2 separate regions of the Homo sapiens genome follow, and region 2 is linked to region 1. Evidence: fine-mapped expression QTL. A gene starts in region 1. The other region holds a variant in brackets. All regions are shown on one strand. Distances are between the middles of the regions.

Region 1 (16,698 bases):
GATCACCTGAGGTCAGGAATTCAAGACCAGCCTGGCCAATATGGTGAAACCCTGTCTCTACTAAAAATACAAAAATTAGCCGGGTGTGGTGGTGCACATCTGTAATCCCAGCTACTCAGGAGGCTGAGGCAGGATAATCACTTGAACCCAGGAGGCGGAGGTTGCGGTGAGCCGAAATTGCACCACCGCACTCCAGCCTGGGTGACAGACTCCATCTCAAAAAAAAAAAAAAATTAAATTAAATAAATAAAATAAAATCAATGAATGAATATTTGTTAAACACTTAGAATAGTGCCTGGTACATAATGGGAACTATATATAAACATTTCTTTTCTTTTCATCCAAATTATTGGCAAAATCAGTAGAAAAACAGCCCTGTGGCACATCAGCAGAAGCCCTTTCCTACTTTAATTGGCATGTTATAAATATCACAGTCCAAAGAGTCAACTAATCTACTTAGCGGCGCTGGCCCAGCTTGTACTTTTCTACTCTGTTCTCATGAGAGGATTCCTCAAATACCACTTTCCCCTAACTTATCAGTCTAGTAAGCCTTTCAAAGGAGAAAATGGTTACCTTTCAGGGCCTGTTCTTGTAAACCTAGGCCAGCCTCACTGATCACAACTGCTGCTTTAAGAAAAGTCACGCCCTCATAGCCCTAGATTCTTGCCTGGAATCGCCATTTAGACTTCTGGAAACAAAAGACCACTTTATTTCCCTTTTGGTCACGTTTCAACTCTTGGACATCAGGGAGAAATCAGAGCATTGCAACATAAAAACCAATCCAACTTGTCGTATTCTTAAGGTTCTGACTAAATTGCTGTTTGGATCAACTCTTACCTAACACTTTCCCCCGGGGCCTGATTTCAGCAAGAGTGCTATCTTTAGGGGTCCCTAAATTCTCTCAAAAGGGACAGGTCTGTTTTCTCAGAGGCTGGAGGCTATCTCGTGGGACTGAATGTGGATCTGAACAGGATTCTCGTGGTTGACTTAAAGCCAAGTCAGAACACTGGCACTAAGTGAAGGCACATGAGCCTGAAGTTTGTAACATACATCTAACCTGGGAATCCTTCACCTCTAAGTTGTCAGCTGGCCCTGGCAGTTTGTTAGGGCATCAAGAAGTACTCATGTGAGAACCTAAAAGCATTCTGTGAAAGGTGGTTGCAAGAGCCATTCCAGTTTTTCAGGAGACTTAGTAAGGAGCTGCTGCTGCAGAGGCTAGGAGCCTCAACTCACCACCTGAGCCCACCCTCCACGTGGCACGGCCCAGACCAGAGCCAGGCCTCCCGATTCCTCTGTGAAGTGAAAGGGCTGGAAGCAGATACCTCTCTGCCACGTTGGCCTCTGTGATGGCCCGGGGTGGCACCTTCCAAGGGCAGTTGATGCGCCCACCAGGCAGGCGTTTGAAATCAAATTGGCAGCAGATCTTGGGATCTGGGCCACAGGTATGGGGGACGTCATAGCTGTAGAAGGGCATCATGTGACAGAAGATGTCTGTGCTGGAGTCCGAGTCTGCAGGAGACACACCACGTGGTCACCACCAGCAGGCAGCCTCTGGACGCCAGGGGGGCAAGGATCTGTTCAGGCTAAAGGCAGCCCTGATAGACCGCGAGGCTGTAACTGGACCTAGGGCTGGAGAGAGTGTGTAGGCCAGGGAGAAAGACATGAGGGGCTCCCTCAGGGGACGGGCACACAGGGCACGCTGAAGCCCTTGGGACAGCAGGCCCTGTAGAGGCCAGAGGTCAATATGGCCCTCCCCTAACCAGAGGGTGCGACCATTTCTGGCAGTCCACACCAGTGCCTGCAGGTCTGCTCTGAAGAACAGTGGGGGTCTTAGTTCTGATATCCCTGCTGTTCCCCAGTGAAGACTATGCTGCAGTAACCCCCTCTACCCTACCCGGCCTTACCCCATGTCTGCCTCCACATGAACTCTAGGCTGTGGGTGGCAGCAAAGTGCTTCTTGATGGCATAGTGCACTCTCTGAATCAGCATGCTGGTGAGGTTGGCACGGCGCAGCAGGTAAGGCATGGTGGAGCTGTATCCAAAGGGGTCCACTGCCCAGCCAGAGCGGGGGGTTGCACCTGGGCAGGGCATGGAAGCCAGAGAGGCCCTGAACACACCTCAGGGGCTGGCCCCCCGGCCTTCCAGGTGCTGGGACCCCAGCTCTTGTCCTGGTAGTGAGTGGAGAGATGATATCACACCAGGCCCACATGGTGGGATCTGCCTAGAAAGGAACCACCCCCTGCCGATCCCTGTGCCTTACAGCCCCTGCCTGTGCCTTACAGCCCAGGGGGCAGACCCCCATGCCTGGGCCTGGACTTACCAAGATTTCTCTCCAGCCACTGGTGTCCTTCGATGAGCTGGTCAATCAATGCAAAGTAGTGGGAATTGGCCTCATCTGGCATCACCCAGCCTCCTGTCGCAATCTCCAGCTGCCCGTTTCCCACCAGCCTATAGTTAAGGACTCACACTCAGGACGGAGCAGGACACTCTGCCCAGTCCTGCCAACCAGCAAATGTCAGGGCCTGTGTGCACTGGCCTCACTGGACCAGTTCTCCCAATCCCAGGACCAAGAGAACACACACTTGCCCTCCTTTCCTTACAGCCAACCTCCAGGCTATCCTGGCCCCGCTTATCTCGGAACCTATCTGTTTTTGCCTTCCCTCCCTCCACCATCACTCATCTCTTCCACAGCTCTCTGGGCCTCTCCCTGCCACCTTGGCACCCATAGCTTAAGGTAAGACCCGTCCACCCAGCCTGGGGCTCAGACAATGCCCTCCCATGCCTCCCCGCCTGGTACTGGCCTTCGGACTGCCGCTCTCTTTTGGACATTGATGTTGTCCCACCACTTGGCGAAGAAGGAGACCTCTGCCCAGAGGAAGCGCCGCCGGGGGTCCTCCTGCAGCTTAGACACCATGCTATTGAGGATGTGTTGGGTCTGCTCTGTGTAGTACTTGTCAAAGGTCTTGATCCAGCCTAGGGAGCCAATGTAGGGTCCCCTGAGGATGCCACCATCTTCTTCGACGTCCCTCCCTTGTATTGGCCATCAGAAATCCCACTCCACACTCCAGCTCCCAGGAGTCTGCAGGGCCCTCACCTGGGTCATTGTGAGAGTGGGGCACCACAAACACCTGCAGGTCTTCAGCATCCCAGTCGTGCGGGTCGTAGGAGATGTCGAAGCCTTGCCTCCACACACCACCATCCACGTTGTCAAACGGCAGCTCCTCCGACACAGTGAGCATCTGCCAGGTGAACTGCAGCTCAGTACCCCAGTCGTGGCCACTGTACGTCCCTGCCAGCTCTGACTCTTACCTGCAGCTCTGGCTTCTGACCCCGGCCCCCCAAAGCAAACTGGCAGTCCTGCGGGGAGATGGAGAAGAAGCTGGGCCGGGGCTCCGGTGGCACCACCCAGGAGCCATTGACCGTGTAGTAGGGCAGCATGGCGGGCGGGCCCTCTGCGTTGGCTGTCAGCTCCAGCACGGAGTCCTTGATATGGCTGATAATCTCATGGTTCTCCTCCAAAAGCTGCTCCAGCTGCTCAATGCGGTTCTGCAGCACAGAAATTTGGCTCTGCCAAAAAACCAGAAAGCAATCACACACAGCTCCTTATGCCACAGGGAGGGTCTCTGCTTGGGGTCTACCAGCTGAGGCCTGAGTACAATTCTTCCCTCATCAGTCAAAGCCAGACCATGAGCCTAGAGGGATAGATGACACCGTTCAGATAAAGGGAGCTGTGCAGATCACCACTGAGGACTACACTCCACTTGGGTTGGGAGAACCATCACTCTCTAGCTCAGGGATGGCAAAGATTTCCTTTCACCTACCTATTCTCAACAATCGGTGTTGCCTGTGCTGAGGATTTCAGCGGGGCTTAATGGCAAAGAATGCTGCAATCAATTAGCAATGTCTGCCAAGAATTCAGGAGGGGCTGGGCGCGGTGGCCCACACCTGTAATCCCAGCACTTTGGGAGGCCAAGGTGGGTGGATCACCTGAGGTCAGGAGTTCAAGACCAGCCTGGCCAACATGGCGATACCTCGTCTCGTCTCTACTAAAAATACAAAAATTAGTCGGGCATGGTGGCAGGCTCCTGTAGTCCCAGCTACTTGGGAGGCTGAGGCAGGAGAATTGCTTGAACCTGGGAGGCGGAGGTTGCAGTGAGCCAAGATCGCGCCACTGCACTCAAGGCTGGGCGACAGAGCGAGACTCTGTCTCAAAAAAAAAAAAAAGAAAGAAAAGAATTCAGGAGAACAGAGTGACAATACTCATTGCCATTGACATTTTTTCTTCCTTCCTTCTTTTCGCCATCACTGTTTTTAGCTGAGGGTTTCTACAAAACCTGACTATTGGGAAGGAAGGCTCCTGTCCTGTACTGACATTACCCTCCAGCGGGGGGTGGGAGGGGAGGCGGCGGGGTGGGAGGTGCATACCCTGAGCCCAGGTGACTTGTATACAAAGAAATTAGCAACCAGGCACGACTCACCCGGGGGAAGTTCCCACCATTCTGGTGTCGGGTGGGATCGTGTTGCACTCGGTCCAGCATGAGGTAGAGCGAGAAGACTGCCACACAGAAGATGGCAGCCCCACACACTGTCACCTGCTTTTTCAGCTTCATACTGGCCTCCACACACACCTGGCAGGAAGGACACCATCTGTAGCTCCAACATGCAAAATGCCCGTGGCAGTCTTTCCACCAAATACCCCAGTGAGTTCCTGAGGGCTGTTCCAAAGGAACACCCATTTGCCTGGCTCCAAGTAGCACAAGCAGCACATCTGAGGCTGGCCCACCTGGTCCTGGTAGCAGCTCTGCCGCTAGGGTGGAGAGGACGCTCTCCTTTGGCTGGTGCTATGAAAAACGGGCCCAGGATAAGAGTCCCAGCTCCGACTGGAGCGCACCACACAAGCTCCTGATTACACAGCTTCCCTGCCTAGATAGGAGGTGCCTGTTCAGGCTCCTCGGCCATGTGCTTCTAGTTTCAGGTGAATAAGCTAGTCTCTATTTTGTTTGATTTAAAAGTTTAGCCAGAACCCAAAGAGACTGATAGGAAAGCCTTTCTCAGTGCCCTTTCGGGTCAAACTGGCACTCACCAGAAACAGTGCCTGGCACGATCCTTTCTCAGAAACACAGAATGAGTTTCTTTCTAATAAAGAAGAAAGATGCTTGTGTTTCTAGCATAAAGCAAGCCCTGTGTGTTCTCCCTGTTTCTCTACTGTTCACTGCAGTGGGAAACTTCCAGCCGCGGTTTGCAGAGCACTTAGGGGACCCCTAGGAAGCCTGCAGTGACGCCGAAGGCCCCCTGGGAAGGGAGAGACGGGGCCCAGTGCTCAGCTGCGAGGCAACTTCAGGGGACCCGTGCCCCCCGCCGCCACCGCCCTCGGGCTCCGCTTGCCTGCTCAGGAGGAAGGAGGACGCTAACTGCGGAGCCGAGCGTGGGCGGGACCGCGCTCCGGAGTCTGCTCCGCGGGCCCTGGGGCCGAGGAGCTTTGTCGCCTCTGCGTTGTGCCCTACTTAGCGCGATCTGATTCTGCTCGGGAGCTTCCGGGCAATATTTTCAGCCCTTAGAGACTGGGTCTAGGCCAATGTGGGTGGAGCTGGGGAGAGAGTTGGATCACAGAGGGCAGGCACCTGCCGCCAGGTCTCTGGCCGCCCGCCCGGCTCCCTCCCCACCCGCTCCGACTTCGTCGGCCCCGGGGACCGCAGAGACAGGCGCCAGGTACGGGCCTCAGGCAGCCTCCTGTCCCTTCCTGGCCCCTCTGACGCCGCAGTGGCGCTCGCACTCCCGCCGCCCGAGCCCGGCCTCTGTCGGGGCAGCCGGAGCCCTCCCGCGCGCGCACCCGGCCCGTTACCGTCAGCGCCCGGCCTCCGCGCCGCTCCGGGCCCAGTCGGCCGAGCTGCCGGCTCTCACACGCCCGGGGACGGCGGCCCGCGTGCAGGCAGCGACGCAGGCGAAGGCGGGCGCCCGCCCACCCGTAGCCCCCTGCTCCGCGCGCCGCTGCCGCGCTCCCGCTGGGCCCCGGGCCGCCGGCGCGCTCCGCTGCGCCGGCCCCGCGCGGGTCCGCCAGCCTCTGAAGCTGCCGGGCCCAGCAGCGTGCGGGGCGGGGACAGCCGCGCCGCCCGCCCCGGCCTGCGTGTGCCCGGCGGAGCTGACAGGAGCTCTGGCCGCCGCGGTCCCCGCCCGGCTCCTCCCGGGCCCGCTCCGCTGGGCTGCAGTGCGCAGCCGCACCAGCCCGGGCCGGGCCTGGCCAGCTGCGGAACCTCAGGAGGGACGCGCGACTGAATTTTTTCGGAATCCTACTTGAGTAAGCGCATGATCGGGCAGTGGTCGAAACGCCCGCCTCCGTCTCGGCAGACGCGTAGCGGGGTGCGTTCTCCGCGGCCTCACCCGGCTCCGGCCCAGGTAGCCTTAGGTCTCTGTCGTTGCGCCCCTCGGGCAAAGGGGTGCTGCCTCCTGTCGGTACAGCGCATTCCTCGAGTCCCTTTCCTTTCCGTGCCTGCTCTATGTTTCCTGCCAGCGAGTGAACAAGACACAGACTTTTCTTGGCTGTTTCCCTTTTACTGGGCATCTAGGTTGTTTACAGTTTTTCAGTGTAATCCATACTGCAATGAACATCTCCATGAATTCCACATTTTTGTTCTTTTTAAGTTATATATAACATTATCTGAATGTGACCCCCCAAATTCATGTTCAAATCCTAATCCCTCAAGGTGATGATGGTATTAGGAGATGGGCCTTTGGGGGTGAACAGAGTTTGAAGGGAGAGCTCTCATGAATGGGATTAGTGCCGGTATCAAATGACCCCGAGAGTCGGCCCCTTCAACCACGTGAGAACACAGCTAGAAGGCACTATCTGTGCACCACAGGCAGGCCCTCACCCGACACTGAATCCGCTTATGCCTTATCATGGACTTTCCAGCCTCCAGAACTGTGAGAAAATACATTTCTGTTGTTGATAAACTACCTACTTTATGGTATTTTGTCCTAACAGCCCGAACAGATTAAGACGTTATTTTATGATGAATTTGCAACAGTGAAGTTACCCGGGCAAAAGATAAGGACAGAGATGACTGATGACACTATCGCTCCCCCAAAAGACTGTACCAGTTTACACCATCAATAACAAACTGCTGGATATTGCTTAAACAATGTTTTAGCTGATTAATGAGATATATAATGCCATCTCATTTTTAAAAATTTTCCTTTAAGTTCTGGGATACATGTGCAGAACATGCAGATTTGTTACATAGGTATACATGTGCCATGGTGGTTTGCTGCACCCATCAACCCATCATCTAGGTTTTAAGCCCCACATACATTAGGTGCTCTCCCTCACCTTGCCCCCAACCCCCGACAGGCCCCGGTGTGTGATGTTCCCCTCTCTGTGTCCATGTGTTTTCATTGTTAACTCCCACTTATTAGTGAGAACATGCGGTGTTTGGTTTTCTGTTCCTGTGTTAGTTTGCTGAGAATGATCAATGCTATCTCTTATTTAACGACCATTTCTTTTTTTTGAGACAATATCTCACTGTTTCCCAGGCTGGAGTGCAGTGGCACCATCTCAGCTCACTGCATCTTTGACCTTCCAGACTCAAGCCATCCTCCCACTTCAGCCTCCTGAGTAGCTGAGCCTTACAGGTATGTGCCACTACACCCAGCTAATTTTTTTATTTTTTAATTTTTTTATTTTTATTTTTTGAGACGGAGTTTCGTTCTTGTTGCCCAGGCTGGAGTGCAATGGCGCGATCTTGGCTCACTGCAACCTCCGCCTCCCAGGTTCAAGCGATTCTCCTGCCTCAGCCTCCCAAATAGCTGGGACTACAGGCACGTGCCACCATACCTGGCTAATTTTGTGTTTTTAGTAGAGATGGGGTTTTACCATGTTGTCCAGGCTGGTCTCGAACTCCTGACCTCAGGTGATCCACCTGCCTCAGCCTCCCAAAGTGCTGGGATTACAGGCGTGAGTCACTGTGCCCGGCCCTAATTTTTTTATTTTTTGTGGTGGGTGGGAGGGTCTCACTGTGTTGCCCAGGCTGTTCTCCAACTCCTGGGCTCAAGCGATCCCCCCACTTTGGCCTTCCAAAGTTCCAGGATTACAGATATGAGCCATAGTGCCCAGCTCTTTTTATTTTTTTATTGTTTTTGACAAGCTCTTGTCTGTCACCCAGGCTGGAGTGCAGTGGTGTGATCATGGTTCACTGCAGCCTCGAACTCCTGGCCTTGATCCTCCTGCCTCAGCTTCCCAAAGTGCTGTGATTACAGGGATAAGCCACTGCACTCGACTGCCACTTCTTTTATCACCATCAGGAACAGCTTTCCAGGTTTGTTTACTCACTGGAATGCCTGTTATTAGGGTGTTAGACCTAGACTGGGCTCATCATCCTCTTTGTCTTTTCATATTTTGCCTTGTGTTCTGGGAGATTTATTTTCCAGCCCTTCTATTGAATTTTCCATTTTGGTAATTTTTTTTTTTTTTTTTTTTTTTTTGAGACAAAGTCTCACTCTGTCGCTCAGGCTGAAGAGTGGTGGCGTGATCTCAGCTCACTGCAACCTCTGCTTCCCAGGTTCAAGTGATTCTTGTGCTTCAGCCTCCCGAGTAGCTGGGATTAGAAGCGCGCACCACCATGCCCAGCTAATTTTTGTATTTTTAGTAGAGATGGGGTTTCACCATGTTGGCCAGGCTGGTCTTGAACTCCTGACCTCAGGTGATTTGCCCACCTCGGCCTCCCAAAGTGTTGGGATTACAGGCGTGAGCCACCGTGCTCAGCCTCATTTTGGTGATAATCTTCTTTTTTCCTTCGTTTTGAGAGGGAGTTCTGCTCTTGTTGCCCAGGCTGGAGTGCAATGGCGTGATCTCCACTCACCACAACCTCTGCCTCTGGATTCGAGTGATTCTCTTGCCTCAGCCTCCTGAGTAGCTGGGATTACAGGCATCTGCCACCACGCCTGGCTAATTTGGTATTTTTAGTAGGGATAGGGTTTCTCCATGTTGGTTGGACTCGTCTCGAACTCCCAACCTCAGGTGATCTGCCCACCTCAGCCTCCCAAAGTGCTGGGATTACAGGCATGAGCCACCGCGCCCAGCCTGATAATCTCAATTTTCAAGAATTCTTGTTTGTTGTCTGGTGGTTCTTTTTTAAAAATTTAGGTACAGTTTACACTGTGTGGCACAAATCTTAAGTGTACAGCTTGATGGGTTTTGATAAATACATACACAAGCATAATCACCACCCAGATCAAAATGCAGGACATTCCCATCTACCCAAAATGTTCCCGTGTTAAGTGGCCAAGCAGTCCCTAAGCACACCATAGTGGCTGTCAGACTGTGGTCCAGCCTTGCCTATGTGGCCCATGTAGAGACACACATGGTTGTAAGGGCACCATGGTGAACCTTTTCCCCTCCATCTTCACACGCCTTTCCATCAGGACCCTCCAGACATAAGCACTGCTTTGACTTCTCTGTAACTTAGTTTTGCCTGTTCTTGAACTTCATAAAATAGAATCATAAGTATGAACTCTTTTCATGTCTGGCTTCTTTACTCAGTATGACTTTTTTTTTTTTTTTTTGAGACAGTCTTGCTGTCACCCAAGCTGGAGTGCAGTGGTGCGATCTCAGTTTACTGCAACCTCCGCCTCCTGGGTTCAAGTGATTCTCATGCCTTGGCCTCCTGAGTAGCTGGGACTACAGGCATGTGCCACCACACCCATCTAATTTTTGTATTTTTAGTAGAGACGGGGTTTCACCATGTTGGCCAGGCTGGTCAACTCTTGGCATCAAGTGATTTGCCCACCTTGGCCTCCCAAAGTGCTGGGGTTACAGGCATGAGCCACTGTGCCCAACCACGTCTTTGACATTCATCAATGTCGGTGCATATATTAGTGGTGTTTTGTTTGTTTGTTTTTATTGCTGTATATACGTTTGGGTCATTTTCCAGTTGTTCTGGACCTAATTTCTCTCTCCACTTCTTCTGTAACTTGAATTATTCATATAGTCCCATGTTTCTTAGCTTCCATTCTCTTTTTTCCTCTCTGTACTTCAGTTTAGGTACCTCCTTTTAACCTATTAAGTTCACTAATTCTGTTTTCTGATATGACTTAATTTCTAAATTCGATTGTGATTTTATCCTTTACTTCTATCAATGTTTATGAAATCCATCCAATGAGTTTGTAATTTCAGGGGTATTTTTCAGTTCAATAGCCTCCTTTCATCCTCTTTTAATAGATTCCAACTCTGTTGACATTCTCTACATTTGCTTCTTTTTTGTCCATCTTCTTCTCTATTTGACATATTAACCAAGTTATTTAAAAATCTTTGCCAGTTCCAATGCCTGGATCACATGTGGGTCTGCTTTTATTTATTTTTTCTTTTATGTATTAGCCCCACATTTCTCCATTTTTTGCATGGTTTATGATTTTTAATTGTATGTCACATATTGGGTATAAAAGAAGGATAGGGGCTTCAAATCTTGTTATTCCCTACAGGAGCTAGTCACTTCGATGCAATTACGTACTGAACTGGGTTGGGGCAGTGTTGGAATTGCAGTAAAATTCAATCCCCTCCTGGTTGTCCTTGTTCCTTAGGAATGGCCCTCTTGGATTTTGGATTGAAAGCCTAGTCAGTCTCTGTCTCTCTCAGATCTTAAAGTTCTGCTCTTCAGAGATTTAAAGGGAGCTCTTTAGCTTCCCAACCCACACAGGCGCAAAACCTGGCAAATACCTTATGTTGGGGAGACCAGCTATTTGTTCACTCCAGGCCTCCTCTCTAAACACTGCAAGACTGTGGGACTTGCCTTCTCAGTCTCCTGCACTGCCTCAGAACTCAGCAAATGTCCCATGGGGAAAACACTCTGCATTTTGTGCTCCTCTAGGTCCTAATCCATAGCAAGTCCTTGCAACTACCAAAAACTGTTCCTTTCTCTCTTCCCCAGTAGAGTCTCTCTGCTTGGGCCAAGTCTGATCCTCATGTCCCAAATGGGCAAATGTTTCAGGGAAGAAAATAGCTGCCTATCACTAGTTCAACTCGGAAGGGCTCTTCCCTCCTTGAAATTTTAGTCCATTCAGTCTTTATTTCTGTGACCACTCTTCATTCTTTTTAAAAATAAGACATTTCGGCCAGGCGTGGTGGCTCATCCCTGTAATCCCAACACTTTGGGAGGCCGAGGTGGGCGGGTCACTTGAGGTCAGGAGTTTGAGACCAGCCTGACCAACATGTTGAAACCCCGTCTCTACTAAAATTACAAAAATTAGCCGCTCGTAGTGATGCGTGCCTGTAATCCCAGCTACTCAGGAGGCTGAGGCAGGAGAATCGCTTGAACCCGAGAGGCAGAGGTTGCAGTGAACTGAGATCGCGCCACTGCACTCCAGCCTGTGCAACAGCGCGAGACTCCATCTCAAAAAAAAAAAAAAAAGAAAAAAAAAGACATTTTCATCTTAGCTGTTTTTTCCCTAGCGGTTGCAATGGGAGTGGTGGCGTGCAGAGACCTACCATATCCTACCTAGCAGAAGTTTTTCAGTTCTGCTTTCTACCATTTCCATTGGAGGTATTATTTCACTTCCTAGTATTTTCATTTAATTACACGACAACACAACTTCCTTTTGTTTAAACAAGTTATATGGCTCACTCTCATCTCTTTCAAAATAGATTTTTGTTTGCTGTGTTTTGTTTTTTTGAGACATAGTTTTGTTCTTCGCTCTTGTTGCCCAGGCTGGAGTGCAATGGCGCGGTCTCTGCTCACTCCAACCTTCATCTCCCCGGTTCAAGGAATTCTCCCTTCTCAGCCTCCAGAGTAGCTGGGATTACAGGTGCACACCACCACGCCTGGCTAATTTTTTTTGTATTTTTAGCAGAGACGGAGTTTCACTATGTTGGCCAGACTGGTCTCGAGCTCCTGACCTCAGGTGATCCACCTGCCTCAGCCTTCCAAAGTGCTGGGATTATAGGTGTGAGCCACTGCACCCAGCTGATGTTAACTATTTCCTGAACTTTCTTGAGGGATGGCCATTTTACTTCAAGGTTTTCATTGCCCTGTTCTGTATTACAAATGTTTCCCACTTTGTTTTTTAGTTATGTTCATACTTCCTTATCTTCTCAAACTTCGCTTTTGGTGATGTTAATATTTCAGATGACTTTTTAGGTTTCACTGGGACTTAGGGGAGGAGGTGAAGGCTCCCCAGTCTGCCATCTTATTCCTCAATAAATTCATCTTGAGAAACAACTCCCTCAAAAGCATTTTCTTCCTCATCAGCCACATCAGTCTTCTTTGAGTGGAACTCTCTTCTCATCTCCTCCTGAATTTTATGCGAGTGTTATACGCATCCATAGTGTCAGCTACTCTCTAATATTCATAAGCCAATGATTCACACATCTATTGCCAGCCTTCATCTCCATCTGGGCTTCCAGACCTATTCATCTACATTTTAAATTAATTATTTATTATTTTTATTTACTTATTTTTGAGACAGGGCCTCGCTTTGTTGCCCAGGCTGGAATGCAGTGGTGTGATCACAGCTCACTGCAGCCTCGACCTCCGAGGCTCAATTGATCCTCCTACCTCAGCCTTCTGAGTAGCTGGGACTATAGGTGTGTGCCACCACGCCTGGCTAATTTTCTTGGTTTTTTGTTTTTTGTTTTTTGTTTTTGTAAAGATGGAGTTTTGCCATGTTGCCCAGGCTGGTCTCAAACTAGGCTCAAGCAATCCACATGCCTTGGCCTCCCAAGTACCTGGGACTACAGGTGTCTACCACCACACCTGGCTTCACCCACACTTTTATCTCCAATAAAATGCAACATCTCTAAACTCAACATCCTCCTCGAAGCTCTGATCCTCTTCCTATAATCCTATTTCAGGGGATGACACCGCCATCTGGCCATAGCCTGTATATCATCCTGATCTCTCCCCCGCCTTCCGCATGTCTCACATCCAGCTGCTACTAAATCATGTCAGCTCTGCCCCATGCATACTGCCTGTCCTCCTCCTTCCCCAAGGCCACCATACCGGCACTTGTGCCTTCTGAGACCTGCCTTCCAGAGGAGTGCACATGCCAGGAGTGTTCAGTGGGCACAAGTGGTTTTATTGTTTCTGCCCGGAAGAGGAAGCCCTGGCAGCAGCAGGGACACAGAGAGGACACGGCGCTGCATCCTGCCGGCAGTGTGGATGCTGGTGGCAGGAGTCCAGGACTGTGAAGAGCTGTCAGCATATGAGCTGGAGCCGCTGAGGAGCTGCACCTAGGCCTGCAGAGGCCACCAGCTTGAGAAGGGGGTCCCAGCCTCACCGATGCCGCTTTCGGATGCTCTGCAGCTCCTGGTAGATGGTGCTGAAGCTGGGCCGCTGCCCAGGCTCATAGGCCCAGCACTGCTCCATGAGCCTGAACACGGCATCAGGACACAGCTCTGGGCAGGGCAGACGGCCCCCTGTGAGGAGAGGCACAGCACACCAGGCATGAGGAGGGAGTTTGAGGGTCCTCGGCAGACTCTGGGGGATACCATGAGCCATAGGAGCTGCTTAAGATGCACTGTTCTGAAGGATGCACTGTTCTCCACCAAGGGCCCAAAGGACAAAGAGGCCTGGCTTCTGATCCTAATCCTACCACGTGCTAGCTGTGTCCCCTCTGCCAGCCTGTTTTTCCATCTGAGAAAGGGACATATTAATCCCTACCACACATGTAGTGATGAGCAAATGAAATAACATGTGACCTAGCACAGACCAGGTGCTCACTCAGTAGTAGCTACAGGGATATTCTATTTTTTTTTTTCTTTTTCTGAGATGGAGTCTTGCTCTGTCACCCACGCTGGAATGCAGTGGTGTGATCTCAGCTCACTGCAACCTCCACCTCCCAGGTTCAAGCGATTCTTGTGCCTCAGCCTCCCAAGTAGCTGGGATTACAGGCTTGCACCACTACACCTCGCTAATTTTTTGTATTTTTAGTAGAGACAGGTTTTGCCATGTTGGCCAGGCTAGTGTCAAACTCCTAGACTCAAGTGATCCACCTTCCTCAGCCTCCCAAAATGTTGAAATTACAGGCGTGAGCCACTGCGCCCAGGTTTTTTTCTTTTTCGAGTCAAGGTCTCTCTCTCTCTCTGTCACCCAGGTTGGGGTGCAGTGGCATGATCTCAGCTCACTGCAACCTCCACCTCCCGGGCTCCAGTGATCCTCCCACCTCAGCCTCCCGAGTAGCAGGGACTACAGGCGCATGTCACCACACCCAGCTAATTTTTGTATTTTTTGTTTTTTGGTTTTTTTTGAGATGGAGTTTCACTCTTGTCGCCCAGGCTGGAGTGCAGTGGCACAATCTCGGCTCACTGCAGCCTCCGCCTCCTGGGTTCAAGCAATTCTCCCACCTCAGCCTCCCAAGTAGCTGGGATTACAGGCACGTGCCACCATGCCTGGCTAATTTTTGTATTTTTAGTAGAGATGGGGTTTCACCATGTTGGTCTGGCTGGTCTCAAACTCCTGACCACAGGTGATCCACCTGCCTCGGCCTCCCAAAGTGCTGGGATTACAGGTGTGAGCCACCGTGCCCAGTCTATTTTTGTATTTTTTGTACAGATGGAGTTTCACTGTGTTGTCCAAGCTGATCTTGAACTCCTGGGCTCAAGTGATCCACCCAGCTCAGCCTCCCAAAGTGCTGGGATGACAGGCGTGAGCAACTGGCCAGGTTATTCTTATTCTGCCTGGTGGGAAGGTTGGCATTAAGGGAGTTAGAAGAGTCCGGCTGGAGCATCTGGAAGAGGGTGCAGCCTGAGGCTGCTGTCATCACAGGGTGCTTACCCTTCTCCACAAACTCCCGTGTCTGCTGATTGCTGAGGTTGGGATAGGGGGAGGCCCCCAGGCTGAAGGTCTCCCAGAGCAAGATGCCAAAGCTCCACACGTCGCTTTCGGAGGAGTAGCGGCCTGCAGAGGAGGCGAGGAGGTGAGGCAGCGTGAGTGCACCCTCCCTGGGGCCAGGGCGAGGCAGCCGGCAGGACCCAGGCCTGGCCTCTGGCCATGGAGTCCAGGGTAGACAGGGACTAGGTACCGTAGTTAAGGGCCTCAGGTGCGGTCCACTTCACGGGGACTTGTCTGAGGCCCCCTGAGGCTGCATAGACCCCATCGGCTTCCTCTCGGGACATCCCAAAGTCACTGATCTTCAGGACATTCTTCTCTGTCACCAGGCAGTTCCGAGCAGCCAGGTCCCTGGGTGAGACAGGGCAGGGGCTCATTTGGCCAACAGTCGCCTGCCCAGCCCTGGCTGAACACTCTAGGAAAGCCAAGGACAAAAGCTGCTCCCGGCCCTGGGCACCCCTGTCTACCACAGAGGCCAACTCCCCCTCTGGAGCTGATGCCTGATGGTCCAGCGGGGGGCCCTAGGGGTATAGGTACCTCTTGACTCTGGTCGGGGGTGTTGGCAGGGCCCGTGGCCACCGCCCACTCACCGGTGGATGCAGCACTTGCTCTCCAGGTACTCCATGCCAGCAGCTGCATCCCCCACCATCTGCAGCAGAGTCTTCACCCGCAGGCGGGCCCCCTCCGTGCGGAGGAAGGTCAGGAAGTCGCCCCCTGCAGGTGGGGAGGACCCCTGCTGAGCCTCCTGAGGTAAGGCTGCCACCTGACCAGGCTGCGCGCCCTACCTGGAGCTCAGCGCCCCGCGCTCACCCTGCACAAGCTCCATGACGATGTAGATGGGCTGCTTCTGGGTGCAGACACCAATGAGACGCACGATGTTGGGGTGGCTGTACTGCTTCAGGATCCTGGAGGGCACTGCTGCTCAGGATCTACGTGGCCAGGCCCGCCTCCCCAGGGCCCCCCAGGGATGATGGGAGAAGAGCTTGGCCTCCAAGGCCAGCAGACCCGGACGTGTGACCTGGGGCAGCCTCTACCCTTCGGCACTATAAGGGGGTACTACCCGCAATGGGGGGCCTCGAGGACTAAACACCACCACGGTGGTCAAGCACTTCACACTGTGCCATGCAGTGTAACCTCTGTGTATGCGGGACCCGTGGTGATCATTAGTTTATCACCCACCTCGCTTCCTGTAGAAACTTGGCCTTGAGGTCAGGTGGGAGCGTCTCTCGACAAGACTTCACCGCCACCAGGGTGTTGTCGGCTCGCAGGCGTCCGCTGAACACTTCGCCAAAGTTCCCCTGAAACGGTCTTGGGCTCCTACCACGGCCTTCCCAGTCCCGCAGTTCTCTTCTCCGCTTCCTACCCATTCTGCTTCCTACCCCTGGGTGAGGGGCCCCCGTGTTCGGACCCCTCACCCAGGCTCTCTGGGAGTTTGACCCTCGCTGGGGAACCTAGAGAGCACATGGGGCAGGCAGGGAAAGTTGCCTCCGATGTGCCACCCTTCCTGAGAGAAGTGACATGGAAATCCAAAAATCACTCTCCCTTGGGTTTGAAAAGCATTCTGATTTTTAGGACAGTGACTTCTTCCCTAAACAGGTATCTTATGGCTTACAGTAACAGGGTGTCTCCCTGCGTGCACACAAGAGCTCGATGGGGGCGGCCTGGGTGGGGGTGATGAGGTCAGGGTGCTGGCAGAGCTGTCTGCTGGGAGTTTTCAGGGTAGGTACTGTCCCGTTTCCTGGAGGATGGTGTGTGGTGGGGGCTGGGCAGGGAGTCGGGGTACAAGTGGGGAATCAGATGGGGCAGGGAGGTCTCTGGGTGGTAGGGCAGGGGGCCCAGGCGCGACTCAGGAGAAGTCGCCAGCGACAAGGAGGCCAGCAGAGGC
Region 2 (15,281 bases), 28 kb before region 1:
TCCTTGCCCACCACAGAAGCCCTACAGCTCCACACCAGGGCCCACCATTCCCCTACCTTTGGATGCCTCTGTTTCTGCTTTGTCGTAATCTTCCTGTAAGAGAAAGACAGGAGCCTGAAGGAATGGTCATCTCCCTCTCGGGGCACTAACCAGGCAGCAGGGGTACTCTCGCTCTCCAAGGTCACCCGATCCCCCACCACCCTGAGGTGCAAAAAACATCTGGCAAGCGGGGATGGCCTGGGAGCGTGAATGTCCAGCTGGGGCCCAAGCATCAGCTTAGATGGGCGAACCGGGGCCCGGGCGGGCGAGGGGAAGAGCGCCAGGCTCCCTCACCAGCTTGAGGTGGCAGGCGGCCCGGTTCCGGTGCAGAACGGCCTGGTCCTGGGGCGTCGCGTCCAGACCCAGGGCCTGAGTGTAGGCCGCCAGGGCGCCCCCGTAGTCTCCACATTTGAACAGCTCATTGCCCTCCTTCCGCAGCTGCTCCACTGAGCTGGCCTGTAGAGAGAAAGGGGGCGGAAACGTCGGAGGGGGTTCGGGGCAGAGCCCGGGAGCTAAGGGGAGAGGAGAGGAGGGATCGGGGCGAGCCTCATGGATGGGGAGAAGGAGGCCAGGGATGGTCAGGGCGGGTGCGAAGGGGTGATGGCGCGGGGGTTGGGTACGCACCCCGGGGGTGGCCGGCCGGGGCTCGGGGGTCCCTGGACCACTCACAGTCATCGCGGAGAGGTTGTCTCGTGCCCGCGCAGGCGCAGTCTCTGGGGCGGGGCGAGTCTGGGTTCGGGACGCCACCGGCAGCTGCCCCGCCCCACTCTTGCGTCGGAGGTGGGGTCAGAGAGGGGCAGGGCTAAGGAGGGAGCGCGCCCGGGCAGGGGCGGGGCGCTTGGCTCTGGATCGCAGGTGCAGGCAAGCTCCGGGCGCACCTAAGCTGTCCCCGCAGAGACCTGCAGGGAGCTCGCGGCGGAGGACCCAGAGGGAGGCCTGCGGTGGCTCCAGCCCAGACTCCGGCCCCGACCGCAGCAGAAGTGCACGAGGTCTACGGTCATCAGGGTCACAACCAGTAGGTTGTAGAGGCCCAGCACTAGGAGCGGGCCTGGGCCCCTGCGGGAGAGAAAAAGTATCTGGATCCCGGCCCCGACCGCGCTCTCGCTGCTGCGCTCTGTGGGGGGTACAGAATCCCTGGGAGTCCGGAGAAAGCTCAGGACTCCCTCCCCAAATAAGTGTCGTCTTACATACACACATTTGCATACGAATTTAGGAGCTCATCCTAGAGCCACCCATGGGCAGATTCAGGATGGCTCCCCATTACCAGCTTGCACAGCCCCCTGAACTTCTCCTTTGTAATTGTAATCATGATCTACATGATTTTCTGTTGCGGTCTGTCCCTTCACTAGTCTGTAAGTTACAAGCCTACCACCCCATAATTTAGGAACAGAGCCCCAGATACTGGAACACCCTGTCGATGTTCCAGTGGCTCTGGGGTTGGAGATCTCACCTGAGGATGGGCGGGGGCGGAAGAGCGGACAGATTGACTTGGTACAGGGCCTCAAATTCAGCCCGGGTGCAGCAGGAGCCCCCTGCAGCCTGCAGGTGGCAGCAGTAGGCTTCCTCTGGAGAATCAGACAGACGAGGGCAAAAGAAACCAGGGTAGTGACGGCCATGGACATCCCGGGTGGTCTGGCACAAGTGAGGGTGGTGGACCAGAGCTGAAGAGAGAGGTGGGGGTGCTAGAGACAAGCAGGAGGGGCCTTTCCACAGCTCACTCCACCCCTACTGGAGAGTAAAAGAGATCAGCCCCTACCAGAAGAAAAGATGCCCTTCCACCCATCCCCATCAGTTCCAGTTCCCAGGAATAGCCCATAGCACCAGAGGCAGGTGGGCCACAGGGGTAAGTGCTGTACCTGAGAGAGAGGTTGGCTGGACAAGGGTCACCCAGCTGAAGAGCAGCAGTAGCCCCACAGATAGGCCTGTCAGCAAGGGGCCTGACCTTCTCTGGATGCCCATGAGAGTTCACTACCACCTCTGTCCTGGTCCTGGGAACCCCAACATCTCTCTTTCTAGGCCGTGACTGCAGACAATAAGGAAATAAAAGTCAAAGCCCCAAGGCCCTTGGGCACCATTAATACGAGCCTGAAGCTTCTCTATCACAGGCTTTTAGAGAGAGATGACAGGGACTGGGTTTCTGTCTCCTGTTGGAAAACGTGGGGCCTGCATTGCCAAACTGCTGAAGGAGAGAAGGCTCAAAGGACTAGAGGACAGAATGAGGGATGAGAGAGCAGCTGAGCCATTAGTATGAAGAACAAACAAGCATTTACAGCCAAATATGTTTCTACCCATTCTCCAACTTCCAGGCTGCCATGGAAGCTCTGGGAATTCTGACCCTCCTATTTCAGGTCCCAGAGACCTCAGTTCCAGCATGTGGGGCTTCCCTCCCTAACCTCTGCTACGTGGCAACCACCAAGACTAGCTGAAAACCAAGGGTGACTCCTTTCATTAGCCTTTCCCCTGAGCCTTATCTGCCCCAGCTACCAGCCAGAACACAAAAGCTACATGTCTGATTAGAGTATACTTAGCTAATAGGGAACCCCCTCTCACAGAGAAGTTCTATGGGGATCACCAGGTCTCTCTTACCCCTCAGCTGCCCCTAAGGCAGGGAATTTCTCCAGAAGGCCACCAGCCAGCAGAATTAAGTGTTATTCCAGTGCCTACCCAGGCCTGACAACATCATGCTCCCAGGACAGCAGTGACAACACTCATCACCCCAGGGGCCCACAGAAGATGCCTAGAGACTGAAATAGGAGCTCTCATAGCATAAGAAGACAAGGCAAATTTCATCTGCAACACTGAGGACAAACAAAGGCAGTTCCTGCAGAAACGTCACAGCTACCTGGGAGCCTAAGTCTGAAGCAATTAGGCAGGGCTCCCAGGGAAGGCTCTGATTTTTCAGGTCAGGCCCTAGGGTCTCCTGGAGGGTCCAAAGGTAGACTCCCCTGCCCACAGAACCTGGCCCATCCCTACAGGGAGAACTATTTTTAGAACACTTGGAGAATTTTCAGAGCTTTTACAGGTTGAAGATGGTTCTTGGGGGGAGCTTCTGGGAGAAGCTGTCTCTGACTCTGAGGGTGTGGGGATTGTTCTTTCTTCCCGCTCCCATAGTCCCCTGAGCCTTGGCCACCCTGGATTCAGAGCACTGTGAGGCCACTGCCTTATTTCTTGTCTGTCTTCCTCTTTTCCACAGACTGTGGGCTCCCAAAGAGCCAGGCTTATGTTCTTCTTGCACCCCCAACAGAGCACACTGAGCTGGGGGCTGCGATGCTGAAGGCAGCTGTCCACATCACTTGCTCTCTGCGCGGGCCGGTCAGCTCCAGAGGAATTCATCTGGGGCAGGCCCAACTCGGCCCGCTGAATTAGCCTCCACGATCCCCGGGCCTCCCCGGCGCCAGGGGGCGCTGTAAACGTTCCGTCCCTGCCCCTGCGGCCGCAGTCGTCGGCCCCATCCGCGCGATGGGCTCTGAGGCGGCGCAGCTGCTGGAGGCTGCCGACTTCGCGGCTCGCAAGCACCGGCAGCAGCGGCGGAAGGACCCCGAGGGGACCCCCTACATCAACCACCCCATCGGTGGGCGCGTCGGCCGCGGAGCGCCGGCTGCGGCACCTGGGTGGTGGGGACTGGGAAGGAAACGTGGGGGGCGTGCACCTCATTGAGCACCTGTTTTGTCCCAAGCTTAGTGCGATATACCGTTTAAGCCTCATAACAATTGGAACGGTAGGCATGATCGTTCCCTTTGTCGGTTGGCTCCCAGAGGGTAAGGTACTTGACCAAGGTCACCCAGCTAGTCAGAGTCCACAAGGGGCCACATCTGGCTCTCCAAAACCCACAACACACCGCCTTGGGACTACCTCCGACCTGACTTCCTGCTTTGCCCCTCCCCGTCAGGTGTGGCACGGATCCTGACCCACGAGGCGGGAATCACTGACATTGTGGTGTTACAGGTAACTTTCCCCCTTCTCTGCCAGGAGCCTGGGATGGGGATTAGGGGCCCCATTCAGCAATGGGCAACCCTTGGCTGACATCTCAGGGCTGAGTGGGAACTTGTCCCCAGGCGGCCCTGCTCCATGACACGGTGGAGGACACAGACACCACCCTGGATGAGGTGGAGCTACACTTTGGGGCACAAGTGCGGCGCCTGGTGGAGGAGGTAACAGATGACAAGACTCTGCCCAAGCTGGAGAGAAAGAGGCTGCAGGTGGAGCAAGCGCCCCACAGTAGCCCCGGGGCCAAACTGGTGAAGCTGGCAGACAAGCTGTACAATCTGAGGGACCTGAATCGCTGCACCCCAGAGGGTACGCTTTCGTATGGGCTGTAAGGGAAAAGGGAGGGGGATGCCGCCTTCTGAAGACACATGTTGGTCAGTTCCCCTGAAAAACCCTGGGCATTCTTAATTCCCAAATTAATCCTACTGGACCACTCTTTGATCTTCTTTCATACAGTAAAAATACAATAGCTGGGCCAAGGGGAAGTTTTCAGGACAGCTCATT[C/G]CATCAGGAACTCATGGCCTTGAACCAAGCTTGCCAGGAAGTGGGGAAAAGGCAGTGCTTTCCTTGACATCACGCTAGCAAGTTTCTGTCGACTCTTATGCAGGATGGTCAGAACATCGAGTCCAGGAATACTTCGAGTGGGCAGCGCAGGTGGTGAAGGGGCTTCAGGGAACAAACCGGCAACTGGAAGAGGCTCTAAAGCATCTGTTCAAGCAGCGGGGGCTGACAATCTGATCAGTGCTTGAAGCTATCCAGAGGCACAACTCCAGCCTCGTTCAGGCCGGACAGGATTCATACGCCATCTTTTCTGTGTCTCCTGAGCTCCCTCCATCCTTCCCAGATATTAGAGGCCAAAAAAAGACTTGCATTTTTTCTCAGTCTGAAGGTCTCCTGCTAACTAAGCTGAGCCCCGCGTGGTGGGAATCAGATGTACCCATCCATTTCTGATGCACTCACCGCCTCTCCCCAAGTCTTGGGTCTGTTTGCTATTTTGCATGGTGGGATCTCTGGCCCCTCAGGGACTTGAGATTATTTAAGTACTAGTTCCTAACACGTTCTGGAAAATAAAAATAACTCTGGGTTAAGGTTTAAGCTGCTGCTGCTCCTTCTCCAGCCTCCGACTGGTGGGCTGCATATCTTTCCTTCAGCAAAGCAGGACTAATTGTGTGTCCCGGAGTCACCTCCCTCAGGTTGCGGGCCTCAACCCCTCCGAACCTGGCTTCCTTGTCAGTGACATGGGTTGTGTAATTATCAGGTTAGACTGTGACGTGCCTGATGGAGCCTGACACATAGGTGCTCAAGAAATGGTAGCAGCCTTTCCCGTTAAGAAAGTTGGAAGGGGGCCAGGCGCGGTGTCTCTCGCCTGTAATCCCAGCACTCTGGGAGACCGAGGCGGGCGGATCACTTGAGGTCAGGAGTTCAAGACCAGCCTGGCCAGCATGGCGAGGCCCCGTCTCTACTAAAAATACAAAAAAAAATTAGCCGGGCGCAGTGGCTCGCGCCTGTAATCCCAGCTACTCAGGAGGCTGAGGCAGGAGACTCGCTTGAACCCGGGAGGCGGAGTTTGTACTGAGCCGAGATCGCGCCACTGCACTCCAGCTTGGGTGACACAGCGAGACTCCGTCTCAAAAATGAAAAAAGAAAAGACGTATCGGAAGGGAGTGCCGCCCGCTTACTGACAACCACTGCTGGGCACCGGAGAGACCCCAGCAGCAACATGATTGGGCCGGTGGGGGATTCCGGTTCCCCAGTACCTCAAGCCGCGCGGGAAACTCGGTGACTCGCAATCCCCTCGCCCTTCCGCATTGCGGGTTACTTCGGTTGTTAAGTGACAGGGACTTCCGGGAAGGCCCGGAAGTGGCCCGGGGCTGTCCGACCCCGGGAGCCCGGCGGTCGGCGTAGGGGAGGCGGTGGAACTTTGCTCGGTGGCCATGGGGAGGGATTGCCCGGTGGTGGTTTTTCAGTCGTTGCTGAGCAGCTGAGGTTTATTTTTATGTATTTTATTCTGCATCCAGTCATCCATTAAAGCCAAAGTTTATTAAGTTGTCTGGAAAAGCGATCATCTTGGGTACGAGGAAATTGTTAGGTCAAAGCTGTTCGACTACGATAGTTGTTTGCCCAAGTGAAGGCCCCAGCGGAGGGCTCTGCGAAAAAGTAGGTGAAAGGCAACCAAAAAAGCCGAATTAAAAGAAAACAAATGAACAAAGTTCAGAGTAATCCCCAGGGTATGGTACATTTTGGAGAACTTTGAACTTAATTTTTTTAAATAGTTTTGCGGGAGTAAGATAACGAGATTTTTTTAAGAAAAGATGACTTTGTTGTAGTCCACTTTATATATTTTGTTGCCTGTGTTTTTAGTGTCATATCTAAGAAATCGTTGCCAAATCTAATGCCATGAAGCTTTTCCTGTTTTCTTCTAGGAGCTTTCGTTTTAGCTTTTTTTTTTGAGACGGAGTTTCACTCTTGTTGCCCAGGCTGGAGTGCAATGGTGCCATCTCTGCTCACCATAACCTCCGCTTCCCGGGTTCAAGCTATTCTCCTGCCTCAGTCTCCCGAGTAGCTGGGATAACAGGCGTGCGCCACCACGCATGGCTAATTGTTGTATTTTTAGTAGTGACGGGATTTATCCTTGCTGCCCAGGCTGGTCTTTAACTCCTGACTTCAGGTGATCCACCCGCCTTGGCCTCCCAAAGTTATCGTTTTAGCTCTTACAAGTAAAGTTTTTGATCCATTTTGGGTTAAATTTCTTTTTAAATCAATTTAATTTGGTATAAGGTATACATGATGTTATGAGGCTACATACAGGTAGTAAAAAGGTTACTATAGTGAAGCAAATTAACACATCCATCATTTCACGTAGTTACCCAATTTTTTGTTGTTTTTGTGGCAAGAACATTTTGGGTTAATTTTTGTATATGGTGTAATTTTTTTGTATATACACCATATACAAAATATATGATGTATGGTTTTGCTTGTGGATGTCCAGTTTTCCTAGCACCATTTGATGCAAGGTCTGTCCTCTTAGTACCTGTTTTTGGATTTTTTTATTTTTTATTTTTTAGTAGAGATGGCGTTCCACTAAGTTGGCCACACTGGTCTCGAACTCCTGACCTCAGGTGATCTGCCCACCTCAGCCTCCCAAAGTGCTGGGATTACAGGCGTGAGCCACTGTGCCCAGCCTTGAATAACTCTTCACAATATTGCTTTCTAGAATTTTAGTTCCTGCCTCTTTTTAAACTATAAACTAGTATTACATTTATAGCCAGTATTTAGGTGTACCCTCCCTCTCATTAGTTTATGCCCCTAGACAAATTCTCTTTTTGCTTAAGTACACCTACTTTCTTCCACTAAAGTTTTGTACATTGCAAACTGTTGAGTCTTTGCATGTCTGAAAATGTCTTCATTTCCCCCGTGCTCTTGAATGGTGTAGCTGATAGCAAATTCAAGGCTGAGTTTTCTCTAGGTTTGAATGGACTCCAGGTGTCTACTGTAGCTAACTAGATGTCTGCTATCACTGTGATTGTCTTTCCTTTGTAAGACTTTTCTATTTTTTTTTTTTTGAACAGCATCTCCAATTTGCATTCATAAAATTATTAATCCAAATTGCGAAAGTAGACTTTTACAGAGTCACAGGTCAGTAACAAAACAGGAAATGAAATGTTCCAGAGCCTTTTTTTTTTTTTAAGATGGATTCTCGCTCTGTCACCCAGGCTGGAGTACAGTGGCGCAATCTCGGCTCACTGCAACCTCTGCCTCCTGGGTTCAAGCGATTCTTATGCCACAGCCTCCCTAGTAGCTGGGATTACAGATGTGTGCCACCACGCCCGGCTAATTTTTGTATTTCTAGTAGAGACAGGGTTTCACCATGCTGGCCAGGCTGGTCTCAAACTCCTGACCTCAAGTTATCCGCCTGCCTTGGCCTCCCAAAGTGCTGGGATTACAGGCATGAAGCCATCGTGCCCGGCCTCCAGAGACATTTTGATAAGTTCCAAAGAAACACACTAGGCAGGCTGGGTGCAGAGGCTCACGCCTGTAATCCCAGCAATTTGGGAGGCCCAGGCGGGTGGATCACGAAGTCAGGAGATCGAGACCATCCTGGCTAACATGGTGAAACCCCGTCTCTACTAAAAATACAAAAAAATTAGCCGGGCATGGTGGCGGGCACCTGTAGTCCCAGCTACTCGGGAGGCTGAGGCAGGAGAATCACTTGAACCCAGGAGGCGGAGGTTGCAGTGAGCCAAGGTCATGCCACTGCACTCCAGCCTGGGAGACAGAGCAAGACTCCGTCTCAAAAAAAAAAAAAAAAAAAAAGGCCAGTGTGGTGGCTCACGCCTGTAATCCCAACACTTTGGGAGGCCGAGGCGGGTGGATCATGAGGTCAGGAGATCAAGACCATCCTGGCTAACACGGTGAAACCCTGTCTCTACTAAAACTACAAAAAATTAGCCAGGCGTGGTGGCGGGCGCCTTTAGTCCCAGCTACTTGGGAGGCTGAGGCAGGAGAATCACTTGAACCTGGGAGGCAGAGGTTGCAGTGAGCCGAGATCACGCCACTGCACTCCAGCTTGGGCGACAGAGCTAGACTCCGTCTCAAAAAAAAAAAAAAAAAAAAAAAAGCTAGGCTAAAAATCTACAGTTAAACCATGGTTGTACAACAGGTTATATTCATTCCTGCAGTTTCTCAATAAGTTCTTATATTTGCCTTTCTCTTTTGAGAGTGAATCCCACTCACTCTATTGCCAAGGCTGGAGTGCAGTGGCATGATCTCAGCTAACTGCAACCTCCACCTCCCTGGTTTAAGCTATTCTTCTGCCTCAGCCTCCTGAGTAGCTTTGACTACAGGCGCATGCCACCAGCCCAGCTAATTTTTGTATTTTTAGTACAGACAGGGTTTTGCCATGTGGGCCAGGCCGATCTCAAACTCCTGACCTCAGGTGATCCACCCACCTTGGCCTCCCAAAGTGCTGGAATTACAGGCGTGAGCCACCGTGCCTGGCCTTTAGGTTTTATCTTACGTAATTTGCAATATATCTACACGAGGTTTTTTAAATTGTTTTAATTTTTTTGAGACGGAGTCGTGCTCTGTCGCTCAGGATGAAGTGCAGTGGCATGATCTTGGCTATTTGCAACCTCCATCTCCCAGGTTCAAGCGATTCTTCTGCCTCAGCCTTCCAAGTAGCTGGGATTACAGGCTATAGGCACACACCAGCATGCCCCGCTACATTTTGATTTTTCTGGTTTTTGGGTTTTTTTGTATTTTTAGTAGAGACAGGGTTTCACCACGTTGGCCAGGCTAGTCTCAAACTCCTGACCTCAAGTGATCTGCCCACGTTGGCCTCCCAAAGTACTGGGATTATAGACATGAGCCACTGCACCTGGCCTGTTTATTTATTTATTTGTTTGTTTGTTGTTGTTGTTGTTGTTTTGAGACGGAGTCTCACTCTGTCGCCCAGGCTGGAGTGCAGTGGCGCGATCTCGGCTCACTAAAACCTCTGCCTCCGGGTTCATGCCATTCTCCTGCCTCAGCCTCCCAAGTAGCTGAGACTACAGGCGCCCGCCACCATGCCCGGCTAATTTTTTGTACTTTTAGTAGAGACAAGGTTTCACCATGTTAGCCAGGATGGTCTCGATCTCCTGACCCCATGATCCGCCCGCCTCGGCCTCCCAAAGTGCTGGGATTACAGGGGTGAGCCACCGCGCCCAGCTATCTATTTTTTTTGAGATGGAGTCTTGCTCTGTCACCCAGGCTGGAGTGCAGTGGTGCGATCTCGGCTCACTGCAACCTCTGCCTCCTGGGTTCTCGCCATTCTCCTGCCTCAGCCTCCTGAGTAGCTGGGACTACAGGCGCCTGCCACCTGGCCCAGCTAATTTTTTTGTATTTTTTTAGTAGTGACGGGATCTCACCATGTTAGCCAGGATGGTCTCGATCTCCTGACCTCATGTTCCACCCGCCTCGGCCTCCCAAAGTGCTGGGATTACAGGCATGAGCCACCGCACCCGGCCTGGCCTTTTTTTTTAAATGTACCTTTCTTGGAACTTAATGAGCTCTTTGATTCTGAGATCTCACATCTTTCTTCAGTTCTGAAAAATTCACCGTCTTTGTTTTCTCATCCCTGTATTCTCACTAGTCTTTTTTTCTAAAACTGCTATGAAACATTATGCCAAAGCTTCTCAGTCTATCCTCCATCTGTCTTAGCTTCTTTTTTATATTTCTTTTATCACTGTGGTGCATTCTGGGTGATTCCTCAGTTGTTTTCCAGACCTGCTAAATTTTTATGTCATCTGCCTCCAGTCTAGGGCTTATACCATACATAGAGTATATTTCAATAATTGTATTTTTACATTTCCAGCATGTATAATTTGTAAAATCTTATTTGCTTCTTTTCAGTCAGTTTCTCATTGCAAGACTGAATATCTTTAGCTCTTTGGTGATTGCACATATATATTTTTTAAAGTATTTTTTTAGATTGCTTGCATGTCATCCTGTTTTTGTTTGCAACTTACATTTTTCCTGCCTGTGTACCTCTCAGAGTCTGGTTCTGGTCCCTTGACGTTCCTAGGTTACACTTGGTTACCTGTCCCACGTGGACTTTGAAGTCCCAGCACCTACCATCCTGAACTAGTCTCTACTTCTCTCAAGCTGTATAGCCTCAGCCTCTGCTAATGGCTGTATTATTCTCTCCATTCTTTGTCAAAGAAGATTTCCTTTATTTTGAGTTTGACAGTTTTTGCTTTCTTTTTTTTTTTTTTTTTTTTTTTTTTGAGATGGAGTCTTGCTCTGTTGCCCAGGCTGGAGTGCAATGGCAAGATCTCAGCTCACTGCAACCTCTGCCTCCTGGGTTCAAGTGATTCTCGTGCCTCAGCCTCCCAAGTAGCTGGGATTACAGGCGCCCACCACCACACCCGGCTAATTTTTGTATTTTTTAGTAGAGATGGGGTTTCGCCATGGTGGTCTGGCTGGTCTGGAACTCCTGACCTCAGGTGATCTGCCTGCCTCGGCCTCCCAAAGTGCTGGGCTGTGCCCGGCCTGTTTTTACATTTTTAGTATTTATTTAGCAATCTCTGGCATTAGGAGTTGAGAGGGCAGAATTATAGGTGTGCTTGCGCCTCTAGTTGGAATGCAAGTCTCTAGGTATGTTAGTCTGTGCTGTTATGACAAAAATACCTGAGACTGGGTAATTTATAAAGAACAGAAATTCGTTTTCTCACAGTTCTAGAAGCAGGAAGTCCAAGATGAAGGTGCTGGCAGGTTCGGTGTCTAGCGAGGGCTGCTTTTTGCTTCCAAGGTGGTCACTGCATCCTCACACAGTAAAAAAGGCAGGCTGTGTGAAGCCTCTTTCATTAGGGCCTTAATCCTATTCACGAGGGAGAAGCTCTCATGACCTAATCACCTTCTAAAGGCCCCACCTCTTAATATGCTGCATTGGAGGTTAAGTTTCAGTATGAATTTGAGAGGGACACAAATATTCAAACTTGCGGGAGGCATGCTGACTGGGAAACCCCAGTCCTTCCTACTCCACTGAGGGGCCTTCTCTAGGTCTCCACACTCAATGCTGTGTCTCAAATCTTCAACTCTGTCACATTCAGAATGACAGAGTCCGCATCTCCAACCCCACTTTGGTTTCCTGTGCCCAGACTACCTAACTACATGGATTTTTAGTTCAGGTTTATTCTCAACTAGGGAGGTCCAAAGTCAGGAGCCAGAATGTCAGGAGTCAGGAGCCAACTGCAGACCCAGCTGGTCCTGGGTACTGTTACCATCTGAATTGATTTCTCACTGACCCTAAGTAAAATTGAGGGTTGTTGCGAAGGATCTGGTCTCTGTCTTATCTCTTCTCACTATGAGAATGAGAATGAGAATGAGCCCTTGAAGTGTTTGTCCTTCACACACTTTTTTGTTAGGGAAGAACAAAGATTTTGTTCAGAGATCTCTATTGTGGATGGTAAGCCTCATTCCCACCATCCTAGACTGATTTTCCCCCTCCGTGAGTGCACAGATGCCCCAGTGACAGAGCAAGGTAAGCAAGTCAGGTTCAGGTCAAATTAAAGATGCTGCTCTCTCTGCACAAGTGGTCGAGGTTTTATGTTTTACCTACCCTGAGGCAAGCCATATGAGGACACTGTCTGGGCTGGCTCGCCCTGCATGGGAGGACCAGCTCTTAAGTGGTTCAACTGGAGCCTTTCTCTCTGTGGTTCCAACTGGCCATACAGCCCTTCCTTCTTCATGAAAGCTGGATGGTTCCAAGTAAATGTAGGAATAGAATCCGATCCGTCTCCAGTGGTTGAAATGGCTTCTGTCATGTCCTGGTTCATTTTGATGGTAACCCTCAGAACTGTGAGGCTGGCCGGGCGCAGTGGCTCACGCCTGTAATCCCAGCACTTTGGGAGGCCGAGACAGGCGGATCACTTGAGGTCAGGAGTTCAAGACCAGTCTGGCCAACATGGTGAAAACCTGTCTCTACTAAAAATACAAAAATTAGCCAGGCATGGTGGTGCACGCCTATAGTCCCAGCTACTTGGGAGGCTGAGGCATGAGAATTGCTTGAACCCAGGAGGCGGAGGTTGCAGTGAGCCGAGATTGTGCCACTGCACTCTATCCTGGGCAACAAGGCAAGACTCTGTCTCAAAAAAAAAAAAAACAAACAAACAAACCGTGAGGCCTCAGTACCACAGCTCTGTGGTAAAGGGTTGCTGCTTGCTTTAAAAGTTGGGCCATTTCCAAATTATGCATGCACAAGAATCACCTGGGAGCTTGTTAAAAATGCAAATTATTTGGCCTCTACTCCCAGAAACCAGTTCAAAGGTTGTACCCAGGAATCTGCCTTTATCCCCCTGTGCACTGAAGTCAGCTTTTGTTTCTTGCTCCTATCTCCTATGACACAGCAGTCTCAGGGCAGCTGTGGCTCTGCCCTACGCATCTGCACTGCAGCCTCCAGGCTGAAGAAGCCCTAGTCAGAACAGAAACCTGTACTTTCAATGGCAGTTCTGGTGATTCTGAATCACACCTTGAGCCATGCTGCCTTAAGTCATTTTATGTTTTTTTTTTTTGTTTTTTTGTTTTTGAGACAGAGTCTCGCTCTGTCACCCAGGCTGGAGTACAATGGCGCAATCTTGGCTCACAGCAACCTCTGCCTCCTAGGTTCAAGTGATTCTCCTGCCTCAGCCTACCGAGTAGCTGGGATTACAGGCACACACCACCACGCCCGGCTCATTTTTGTATTTTTTTGGTAGAGATGGGGTTTCGCCATGTTGTCCAGGCTGGTCTCCAACTCCTGAGCTCAGGTGGTCCACCCACCTTGGCCTCCCAAGGTGCTGGGATTACAGTCATGAGCCACCGTGCCCGGACTGCCTTAAGTCATTTTAAAGGCTTAAGTAAATAGAATTCAGCATTCGTTTCTGTCAGACAAATAATTTCATTGCACATCTAAGACTTCCAAAGATAATATCCTTTATTCTGCTCATTTTCTAGGCGTTCACAGATTCCCCTCCTATTGTTTGATTACAAATTCTACTAGCAAATGACACCTGCCACAGTGGAACTGCTTAGCATCCTTTACTAGTAGGATTATAGCTCACATTTGTGGAGCTCTCGTATATACCAGGCACCATGCTAAGCAGTTCACATTGATAATCCTATTTCTTCTGCTATGATATAAATGGGGTTCCACTGTGTGGCCTAATACGGGCAGCAACAACTCTGATGACCTGGAAGAACTCAGCCCTCTCACTCTTGTCTTTAGGTGGCAGCTTGGCAGGCCCCAGTGACTTTCTCTAAGGACCCTGAAGCAAGCTTTTCTCCTAAAGTAATTGTACTCGTTGATTTTTTTATGTGCTGCAAATATTTTCTTCCATATCTGTCATTTGTGTTTTAACCTTGATGTTTTCCATCACACAGAGACTTTCGATATTTTTTGGTTGCGAAATCTGCTTATCTTTTCCCTTATTATATCTTTTAAGTCTCATGTTAAAGTTTAGAAAAGACCGTCCCACACCAGAGGTATAAAAATTTTTGAGTAATTTTGTGGTATATCTTCCCTCTGGAACTAATTTGTATGGACACTGTGAGGTAGAGATCTAACTTAGTGGTTTTTTTTTTGGCTGTGTCACCCAGGCTGGAGTGCAGTGGCATGGTGGCATGATCTAAGCTCACTGCAACCTCCGCCTCCCAGGTTGATGTGATTCTCCTGCCTCAGCCTCCTAAGTAACTGGGATTACAGGCGCGCGCCACCATTCCTGGCTAGTTTTTGTATTTTTAGTAGACACAGGGTTTCGCCATCTTGGCCAGGCTGGTCTCGAACTCCTGACCTCAAGTGATCCACCCACCTTGGCCTCCCAAAGTGCCGGGATTACAGGCGTGAGCCATCGCACCCAGCTGAGATCTAGCTTTGATAGCTAGTTGTCTAAAAGTGCTGTTTATTAAATAATCCACCTTTTTCCCCACTTAAAACATCCCTCTTACCATATACTAAATTCCTGTAGCCCTGGGTCTGTTTCTGGACTCTCCCGTCTGTCTGACCCCCTCCAGGTCACACTGAGTGAGGTAATGGTGGCGTGAGAATCCTCTGGGAATCTGGCAGGATCACCCCCGAGCAGTCCACCCCCCAACTCATTATCATCGTTCAGAGTGGTCTTAGTGTTCTCACACATTCACTCTCCCAAATGCACTTTAGAACTGTCAATTCCAAAGTTTCAATCTCATTGGAATTACACTGAATTTATCAGCTGATTTGGGGAAAACCAGTATGTGGACAGGAACATGATGTGTATCATTGGGTTGACTTACAGAATACTCTTAACAGGTCTTCAGTTGATTCTTAGGTTTTACAGGTAGGCAGTTTTATTGTCTACAAATAATGACAATTATAATTCTTCCTTATGTTCCTCATCTGGCTTGTTGCAGGGGTTAGTAGTGCCGGGACACTGCTGAATAATAGCTTGCCCTTGGCTAGTTTCTGACTTTAATGGGAATGCCTGTGGCGTCTGACTCTTTAGAATGCCATCACTGTTGGTTTCTGAAACAGACCTTTATCTAGATTAGGGTGTTTCTTTCCAGACTTAATTTACTAAGAGTTTTAATAAGGGATGGATTTTAAATCTTACGAAATACCTTTTCAGCATCTATAGAGCTATCATAAATTCTTCCCTATTAATTGAAGCTGAAATGAAGGCTCCTGCACAGCCATACTGCCTCCTCATATACTCTACATGCCCCTAGTCCCCTGTGCCAGGAACTGAATACCTCTGCAGATAGAC

Direction of the effects. Alleles are on the strand shown, and positions count from the first base shown. SD is a standard deviation of normalised expression in the study named.
As copies of G replace C in region 2, the expression in whole blood of the gene that starts at base 5,516 in region 1 goes up (small effect, 0.13 SD a copy in GTEx).

Evidence for each region. PIP is the estimated chance that this variant, and not a neighbour inherited with it, causes the effect.
Region 2: its variant is fine-mapped to the expression of MAN2A2 in whole blood (GTEx, PIP 0.99).

Annotation. Positions count from the first base shown.
Region 1 is chr15:90,892,120-90,908,817 of GRCh38, reverse strand. MAN2A2 (mannosidase alpha class 2A member 2) reads right to left here and starts at 5,516. Exons shown (of 23, transcript NM_006122.4): 1 at 5,386-5,516; 2 at 4,479-4,628; 3 at 3,310-3,567; 4 at 3,095-3,239; 5 at 2,802-2,973; 6 at 2,321-2,448; 7 at 1,905-2,078; 8 at 1,323-1,509. The coding sequence starts at 4,610. FES (FES proto-oncogene, tyrosine kinase) reads right to left here. Exons shown (of 19, transcript NM_002005.4): 14 at 15,993-16,111; 15 at 15,624-15,718; 16 at 15,404-15,527; 17 at 15,007-15,164; 18 at 14,760-14,882; 19 at 13,042-13,402. The coding sequence ends at 13,260. RefSeq lists enhancers at 4,526-4,585, 6,426-6,475 and silencers at 5,536-5,965, 5,986-6,255.
Region 2 is chr15:90,920,758-90,936,038 of GRCh38, reverse strand. It overlaps HDDC3 (HD domain containing 3), which reads left to right and starts at 3,490. Exons shown (of 4, transcript NM_001286451.2): 1 at 3,490-3,610; 2 at 3,929-3,984; 3 at 4,095-4,335; 4 at 4,634-6,071. The coding sequence starts at 3,499. The coding sequence ends at 4,764. It overlaps UNC45A (unc-45 myosin chaperone A), which reads right to left and starts at 754. Exons shown (of 20, transcript NM_018671.5): 1 at 664-754; 2 at 334-495; 3 at 57-93. The coding sequence starts at 714. It overlaps MAN2A2 (mannosidase alpha class 2A member 2), which reads right to left. Exons shown (of 23, transcript NM_006122.4): 23 at 13,460-15,281. RefSeq lists a silencer at 539-938 and enhancers at 1,569-1,668, 3,293-3,342, 4,093-4,322, 5,953-6,182. The variant C/G (reference allele first, on the strand shown) is at 4,531.